Regions from separate parts of the Homo sapiens genome. Here region 2 is linked to region 1. The links come from fine-mapping of genetic effects on gene expression. A gene starts in region 1. The other region holds a variant in brackets. All regions are shown on one strand. Distances are between the middles of the regions.

The links. PIP is the estimated chance that this variant, and not a neighbour inherited with it, causes the effect.
Region 2: its variant is the best candidate, but not a certain one, in a credible set for the expression of KLK11 in pancreas (GTEx, PIP 0.79).

What each region holds. Positions count from the first base shown.
Region 1 is chr19:51,024,410-51,028,793 of GRCh38, reverse strand. KLK11 (kallikrein related peptidase 11) reads left to right here and starts at 2,178. Exons shown (of 6, transcript NM_001136032.3): 1 at 2,178-2,256; 2 at 3,128-3,202; 3 at 4,000-4,156. The coding sequence starts at 3,163. RefSeq lists enhancers at 867-1,423, 1,983-2,540, 2,541-3,099.
Region 2 is chr19:51,061,405-51,065,788 of GRCh38, reverse strand. KLK13 (kallikrein related peptidase 13) reads left to right here and starts at 697. Exons shown (of 5, transcript NM_015596.3): 1 at 697-773. The coding sequence starts at 722. The variant C/T (reference allele first, on the strand shown) is at 1,870.

The DNA of each region.
Region 1 (4,384 bases):
AACCCGTGAGGCAGAGGCTGCAGCGAGCCGAGATTGAACCATTACACTCCAGCCTGGGCGACAGAGCGAGACTCCATCTCAAAAACAAACAAACAAAAAACCCAGTGCTCAAATAGGATGAGGGTCTTCCCTGAGTAGTTACTCAGAAATGGAGTAGAAAAAGTTACTTTTAATAATATAGGCCGGGTGCAGTGGCCCACGCCTGTAATCCCAGCACTTTGGGAGGCCGAGGTGGGAGGATGGCTTGAGCTCAGATTTCGAGATCAGCCTGGCAACACAGTGAAATCTTGTCACTACAAAAACACAAAAAATTAGCTGGGTGTGGTGGTGCGTGCCTGTAGTCCCAGCTACTTGGGAAGCTGAGGTGGGAGGATCACCCGAGCCGGGGAGGTGGAGGCTGCAAAGAGCCGAGATCATGCCACTGCACTCCAGCCTGGGCAATAAAGTGAGACCTTGTCTCAAAAACAAAAACCCAGCAATATAAATAAGACACATGTTTCTTCATCTGGCATAATAGAAATAGTGCCCAGAGCTTATAAGCTTTTCAAGAGTCCACAAAAGACCCGAAAAAGAAAAAGAAAATTGTTAGCTCCAAAATACCAGATGAAAGCTGCAAAGTCAACATTTATGACCATTTAATCCAATGTCCATAAAACGTAGCATTCTTTCCACTAGCCAACTGCAGTTTACTTTCTTGTAATGAAGCATACATTGTATCTTTAATGTGGGACGTGGCTTTGTTCTAATAAGACGAAGGGTGGAGTGCAGGCTTGGAAAGCAGGAGAGCTCAGCCTACGTCTTTAATCCTCCTGCCCACCCCTTGGATTCTGTCTCCACTGGGACTCAAGAGGTGAGGAGAGACCATCTCCCCAAATGCACTGAAGGGAAACTGGAGGAGGGAGGGAGTGAGGGGTGATCATACCAGCGGAGGCACATTTGCTGAGCCCCCCCGCAGTCTGCTCTTTCCAAGTGGACCCTCCTGGAAGCCTGATCCCAACCTCCCCTGCAAGCAGGTCTGTCACCCCCATCTCTCAGATGAAGAAACTGAGCCTTGCAGGGGTGGAGTCCCTTGTCCCCACGTCATAAGGGTAGTCATAGTAGTAGGAAGAGGAAGCACCTAGGTTTGAGGCCAGGGCTGGCTGCTGTCAGAACCTAGGCCCTCCCCTGCCTTGCTCCACACCTGGTCAGGGGAGAGAGGGGAGGAAAGCCAAGGGAAGGGACCTAACTGAAAACAAACAAGCTGGGAGAAGCAGGAATCTGCGCTCGGGTTCCGCAGATGCAGAGGTTGAGGTGGCTGCGGGACTGGAAGTCATCGGGCAGAGGTCTCACAGCAGCCAGTAAGTGAACAGCTGGACTCGGGCTGCCTGGGCGGCAGGGAGAAGCGGGCAGGGGAAGGGTCAGCAGAGGAGCGAGGCCCCAGAGGAGCCCTGGGGTGGAGCACAGCCAAGGGCTCTGTTCCCTTTCCTGGACTCGGCTTCCACAGGCCCTGACCTGCCTCCCCCACCCTCCGGTCCTGCCCCTGTGCCTGGCAGCAGCCCCACCTGTGTGACATCCCAGCACACCCCCCCTCTCCTTGCAAAGGAGAAGGGAGCGGCCTAGGGGAGGCCAGGGGCCCACCTGGGCTGGGGCTGTGGAGAGGGAGTGGCTGGGACGGGAGGAAAAAGAGAGACGGAGATTAGATGGAAGAAGAGGGATTTCAAGACAAATTGCCAGAGATGCAGTCAGAGAGACTGACTGAGAGACACAAAGATAGAAGGAATTAGAGAAAGGGCCACACAGAGCCAGACAGAGAGAGAAGAGTGGAGATGGAGACAGGGACGAGGACAGAGAAAGGCAGACAGACACATAGGGACAGAAAGAGAAAAATCACACAAAGTCAGAATTACTGAATGACAGGGAATGACACATAGAACGAGACACAGATTCAGAGACTCAGGGCAGGGAAAGGAAGGCTGCAGACAGACAGACAGACAGAGGGAGGCTGAGACACAGGGAGAAGAGGGGCTTGGAGAGGTGGCACAGGCAGGCAGCCAGTGCCTCAGAGGCCTCCGGGGAGGGCCCTCACACACACCCCGCCCCGGGGCATTAAGGCAGGGCTTGGAGGCCAGTCATCCTGGGCCCGCCCAGGGCCGCCCCCCTGCCAGCCCGCCTGCCTGGTGCCTGGCACCTGGCGCTCCAACCCAGCCTACCTGCTGTAGCTGCCGCCACTGCCGTCTCCGCCGCCACTGGGCCCCCAGAGCCCCAGCCCCAGAGCCTGTGAGTCCAGGAGGAAAGGGAAGCTGCCCCTCCCCGTCCAGGTGTCAGCCCTCCCCAAGGACACCTGTCCCACTCGGGCACCCATTTCTCCCTCTGCTCTGTCCTTCTCTGCTTGGGTGGGGGTTCCTGGCCTCTCTCTACACCTCTCACCTCCGATGGCTGTCCGCAGCCTCAGTTACCTCTAATCTCCATGGCTTCAGCTGCTGAGCTGGCCCTCTGCTCCCACCCCCGCTGGCCAGGGCAGCGGAGGGCACTGGCCCTCCCCTCGACCAGCCCCGCCCAGCTTTGCTTGGCTGTCCTTCAAAAGGGCAGGGGTTTGGCGGACAGGGCTTCAGCAAGCCGGGTGATGGGGGTCCCAGACATTGTCTGGGGCTGAGCCCCCTACTCCCCTCCAGCAGACCTCAAAGGCTCCATATCGCTCTGCTGCGAAGACAATGAAAAAGGGGTGGCTACGGAACGGTGTCTGGTTCCCCTTGTCCTTCCACCCCAAGCTGCTGGGGCCTGGCCAGCTCTCAAGGCAAGAAGGAAAACATCCTCTGACATGTGCCGGGGAGGTCCCATGGCTGACTTGAACAGGGCCGAACCATGGCTTGACAGCTCAAAGCCCCTCCCAACGACTTCCACATGGTTCTTGGTATCTCGGAAGCTTCTAGCTGTGACCAGGCCCTCTCCAAGGCCACCCTAGACACCTAAGATATATTTTAAGTGTTTGGAGATCTGAGTGCTGTGAGAAACAGGGGATTTCCCCAACCTTGTTTCTCCCAAGTGGGGAGCGGGAGCAGGTGAGGGAGAGAGGAGAGGGCATGAGCCAGCCCCCCCCTCCCGATTTCCCCGTAAAGTGATGCGGCCCCATGTCCCTCCTTGTTCCCAGAGGAACCTGGGGCCCGCTCCTCCCCCCTCCAGGCCATGAGGATTCTGCAGTTAATCCTGCTTGCTCTGGCAACAGGTACGCAGGGGATGGGGGCAGGGCAGGATCCTCCCTCTTGAATCTCTGGGATCCCCTAACCCTCTGTGTCTGGACAGTGACAGGGCTGATTCCAAATTACAGAACAACCCATAAGGCACCTGAACTGGAGCAGTGGTCATGAGGGCCTGGATGCCCTTCTAGATAATCCCTTTAAATGCCAAAGGAGGAGAGGTCAAGGGGGTCGTAAAGGGTCCCGTGGAGGGGCTGAGGAAGCTGGAGTTGGGGGAGCAGTCACTCAAAGCGCCCAGGACAGGGGCTACTGACCAACCAGTATGGAAGTATTTCCTTTTTTTTTTTTCCCAGAGACAAAGTCTTGCTCTATTGTCCAGGCTGGAGTGCCGTGGTGCCAACACGGCTCACTGCAGTCTTGACTTCCCGGGCTTAAGTGATCCTTAAGCCATCTCAGCTTCCCCGGTAGCTGGGACCACAGGCACCTGCCACCAAGCCAGGCTAATTGTTTAATTGTTTGTAGAGATGGGGGAGGAGGTCTCACTATGTTTGCCTAGGCTGATCTAGAACTCCTGGGCTCAAGTAATCCTCCCACCTTAGCCTCTCAAAGTGCTGGGATTACAGGCATGAGCCACTGCATTTGACCTTATGGAAGTATTTTCATCCTTTAATACCCGACCCCAGCATCCAGGGCAACCCAGAGGGACACCAGACCAGGGCCCAGACCACCCACTCTCTTTCTCTCCTCCCCACCCCCATTTCTGGGAGTCCTCCTGGTCTACCACCTCTCCTTCCTGAGCCCCTTCTTTTGCTCTCACCCCCTCCAGGGCTTGTAGGGGGAGAGACCAGGATCATCAAGGGGTTCGAGTGCAAGCCTCACTCCCAGCCCTGGCAGGCAGCCCTGTTCGAGAAGACGCGGCTACTCTGTGGGGCGACGCTCATCGCCCCCAGATGGCTCCTGACAGCAGCCCACTGCCTCAAGCCGTGGGTGCGGGGGCTGGGGCGGTGCCGGGGTGGGGGGCTGGGAATGGGGAGATGGATGGAGAGAAGCTCAGGGATAGGGGTGCTGGTAAGGGGATTAGAGATGGGGATGGGTAGTGTCAGCAAGGTTGATGGGCTCGAGTTGGTATTGAAGGTGGGGGGATGAATGGGGTTGGGATGGGGCTATGGCTGGGAAGGGGGCTTCGGTGGGAGACGTGGAAGAGGTTGGAA
Region 2 (4,384 bases), 37 kb before region 1:
CCGCTGAGCCACTGGGGGTGGAGAGGGGGAGGCCAGGGACCAGGAAATGCTGAGTGAGCTGGGGGAGGGAGTTCAGGGGTTAAAAGCCATGGTTCGGGGCTGAAGTTCTAGACAGCTGGCGGCTGACGCTCCTCGTGGGCCCCTCACTCAGGTAGGGTCTGCCTGGGGCGGGGGCGGGGAGCGGAGGAGGGCAGGGAGGGGAGAGAAGAGGGGATAGGAAGGATGGGGAAAGCAGAAGGGCAGCTGAGTCAGGGAGAGGGAGAGTGAAGCTAGAGTCTCAGATCTAGAGAGAAACCTGCAGAGACGGAGAGAGGCGAAGGGCGCGGACAGATAAGAACTTGGGCTAATACCAAGCGTGTGGACAGACCCAGAGGGGTAGAATGGAAGGCAGACTCTGGAGGAAAAGGGCGAGAGTGCACCGACCACCCAGCTCGCCAGAGGGCAGGGGAGGAGGGACGGCTTCCTGGGGTGAGGGGCTGCACGCCGGAGCCCCAGGAGGTTGCACACTGTTCCTCCCACCTCGCCACTGCACCCCCACCAAGGATGGAATTGGAGGCGGGGGGCAGATTCCAGGGTCAGGGCTGTCAAGAGTGAATGAGGCGAGGAGACATTCAGGAGCAGAGAGGTTTCAGACGCGGAGGTTCCGGGCACGCCCTCAACACCCCCTTCACCTTCTCCTCAGGCCCCGCCCGCCCTGCCCTCCCCTCCCGATCCCGGAGCCATGTGGCCCCTGGCCCTAGTGATCGCCTCCCTGACCTTGGCCTTGTCAGGAGGTAAGAATGCGCGGGGGTGGAGGCGCGGCGGCCATTCGGGACAATGGTAGGAGGGGTCAGGCCGGAGGGGGAGGGGGCGTGGGAGCCGCGAGCTCCGCCCCCCGCCCACTCGGGGCCGGGTCCAGTGGGGACAGCTCAGAGCTCTTCCTGCTTGTCCCTGGGTGACCTGGTTTCCCGGCTGAGGTTGGCCCTCCGACCCCAGACCCTTCACCTCCCAAAATACCCTCGCAGCAGCCCCTCCCGCGTTCAAGGCTTCCTGTCCTCTCTGGAAAGCTGAAAGACATGGGTTCGCGTCCTGACGCTGCCGCTTTGAGCCAGTAGCCTAGCAGCTGCTTTGTGCCTAAATTGTTTTCATCTGGAAAATGGGCTTAATCTATAAGTGCTTACCAGAGAAGGTCACTGTGAATATTGAAACGAGGTAATGCGTCGAGCCTTCAGTATGTCGCAGGTAGAAGGGACTTGAAAGTTAGCCACTTAGCCGTTATTACTTTATTAGTAGTATTCCTTTTTTTTTTTTTTTTTTTTTTTGAGATGGAACCTTGCTCTGTCTCCCAGGCTGGAAGGCAGTGGCACGATCTTGGCTTACTGAAACCTCCGCCTCCCGGGTTGAAGCGATTCTCCTGCCTCAGCCTCCCGAGTAGCTGGGATTACAGGCGCCCGCCACCACGCCCAACTAATTTTTGTATTTTCAGCAGAGACGGGGTTTCGCCATGTTGGTTAGGCTGGTCTCGAACTTCTAACTTCAAGTAGCCCGCGTCAGCCTCCCAAAGTGCCAGGATTACAGGCATGAGCCACCGAGCCCGGCCTCTAGTATTCTGTCTTCATACTCAGCCCCTTCCAGAACCTTCTAGATTGTTATTTTAATCCTTGGGTTGACCCCAAACCTATGTGACCTCACCCCAAATTGGTAGTCCTTAAGATCCTTATGGATCTTTCCCATCTTTCCCTGCCGTTGTAGGCAGGTTCTCTGGAAACCCCGTTCATGAATCATTTATTCATTCAACAAACAGCTATTAAACACCGGCCACTGTGCTGGGTGCTGTACAAGCAGAGACACAGTCCCTGCTCTCAGCACCTGGAGTCTAGCGGGGACAGA[C/T]GCAGATGTTATTCAAACAATTATCCAAATAATTAGTTAATAATTATCTTGACATGAGGTGAAGACTTCAAGGAGCCAAGCCAGGGGCCTAGAGATGTAATGGCGGCTTCCCGACCAGAGGCCTTCCCAAAGGGCTTGACCCTTGAGCCAAGACCTGAAAAAGGAGGGATCTGTGGGTGCCTGGCACCTGGCACCATCCTTGGCCTGAAGGTGGGGTGGCTTTTCTCCTCTGGCGACACTCCCTGGATTCATGCCCGTGCCACTCCTGAGTGCCACACCCTAGGCTAGGAGACCCACACGCTACGCCTTGTGGAGTCCTCAACAACCTGGCGAGGTAGGTGCATTGTAATTACTCCAATTTCATGGCAGAGAAACCTAGGACTCAAAGACAGAAGGCTCCTGCTCCAATGACACCGGCGATGCCTGAGTCAGAATCCTAATCAAGGTTGTTTTCCCTGTCCATATCCTGGACTTGAGGCTCTGAAAACCATTTTTATAACTTTTGACCTAATCATTTGCTTAAAGTTAGCTTTTTTTCTTCTTTTTTCACTCAAACAAAAGCATGTTCAACTTTATATTACTGTCCTGAATAGAGAATAGAATTCTTTGTCATAAATAGAAGGTAAGGAAGGAAATAAATCCTGCACAATGAAAAGAAAATAATATGTTTATTGGGTTGGACCACCTGAAATTGCTGATACTTGACCCTTTTTGACCTTCCTAAAACAACTTTTGCAGATGGTTCAGTGTAATAAATGTTAGGTGGCCTGATGAGGCTTCTGTGTCCTCCTGGCTTTGAAAAGTGAGCTCAGTGAGGATTAGGGAGGTGTTAAAACCATATTAGCACCATCCTGAGACTTTATCCTTGACAAAATCAGGTTTAAAAGAGAACTGGATGCTGGTTCAGCGTCTGAGTGTGCGATTTAACGTTACTTAAATCTCATCTCTCTACCATCTAAAATGATCCTGTGCTCACCGACAACTTCTGTCCCTAACTGCAAACCACTGAGCTAATCCAACTGCTTGCCCTGTAGTTGGGGAAACTAGCTAGGGAGGCAGAGGGACCTCCTGTTGTAGCTAATAATTAATAATAACATTTCCCACTGACTGAGTGCTCTCCATGCCACCTGCTGTGCTGCACGGTTTGAAATGCAGGATCATCTTGAATTCTTCAACTGCGCAATGAGAGATGAACTATTACTTTTTCTACTTGACAGCTGGGGAAACTGAGGCTGGTGATTTGCATAAGGTCACACAGTCACAAAATGGCATGCATGTTCAGGATTGGATTCTCCCTGTCCCACGGACCCCTGCTGTGCTTTCAATGCCAGACACAGTGCCTGGCACACACAGCATTTATTTATTGAGCCCCCATTGTGTGCCAGGCGCTGTGTTAGGTCCTGGGAATATGGTACTGAATAAAGCAGTTAAGGTGCCTGTTGTCAATGGAGCTTACAGTCAAAGTGGAGAGATTTTTAAAAACGAATACATACAAATGTGAAGAGAAATGAATAGCAATCATTGTTCTGATGAAGACCAACTGGAAGAATGTAATGGGGGAGGAGTCGGGACCAGGAGAGTCAACATTAGACCAGGTGGTCAGGGAAGGCCTTTCTGAAGAGGAGACATTTGAGCTGACCTCTCAGAATTAAGAAGGACCCAGACATACAACCTCTAAATTCTGAGGGTCATCCAGTAGAATATTCCATATATGTATATATGAAATATCCTATATCTGTGCTGTCCAATTATCCACTAGCCCCTTCAGGCTATTGAACATTTGAAATATGGCTGGTGTGACTTAAGAACTGAATTTTTAATTTAGTTTTACTTCATTTTAATTAGTTTAAATTTAAATAGCCACATGTAGCTAGTGGCTACCATATTAAACAACATAGGTCTGGAGAAAGGACTGTGCAGAGAGAGGAAATAGCAAGTATAAAATGTCTAGTATGGGGGCATCCAAGATGATTTAAATTCTTCTTTTCTTTAAATGCCTGGTGTGTTTGAAGAACAGGCCCATGAGGCTGGACTAGAGGAAGTCAGAAGAAAGAGGTTGGAGATGGGGTCAAAGAGGCTGGCAAGGGCCAGACAGCACAGAGTCCTGCACACCTTGGGAAGGCTTTTTGGATTTTATTTTAAAGAAAGTTGAGCCTGGGAACAACATCTGACTTTCTTTGTTTGAAGAGTCCTCAGCCTACTTTGAGAAGACTGGATCGGAGGGATGTAAAAGTGGAAGGATTTAGGTTAATGTTGTAGTCATTTGGGCTACAGAAGATGGGGCATGGACCAAGATGGTGGCAGAAGTGTGGAGATAACTGGATATTTGGGAGATAAAACCAATAGGAACTGGTTGTGAGTGATGAAGGAAAGAAGAGAAGCAAAGATGACTCCCAGGTTTGGGGCTGAGCACTGAGGTGGGAAATACTGGAGCGAACAGTTTTGATTGAGAAGAATCAAGTTGGGAATACAAAGCTTAAGATGCCTGTAAGGCATCCAAATCAACAGTGTTTGA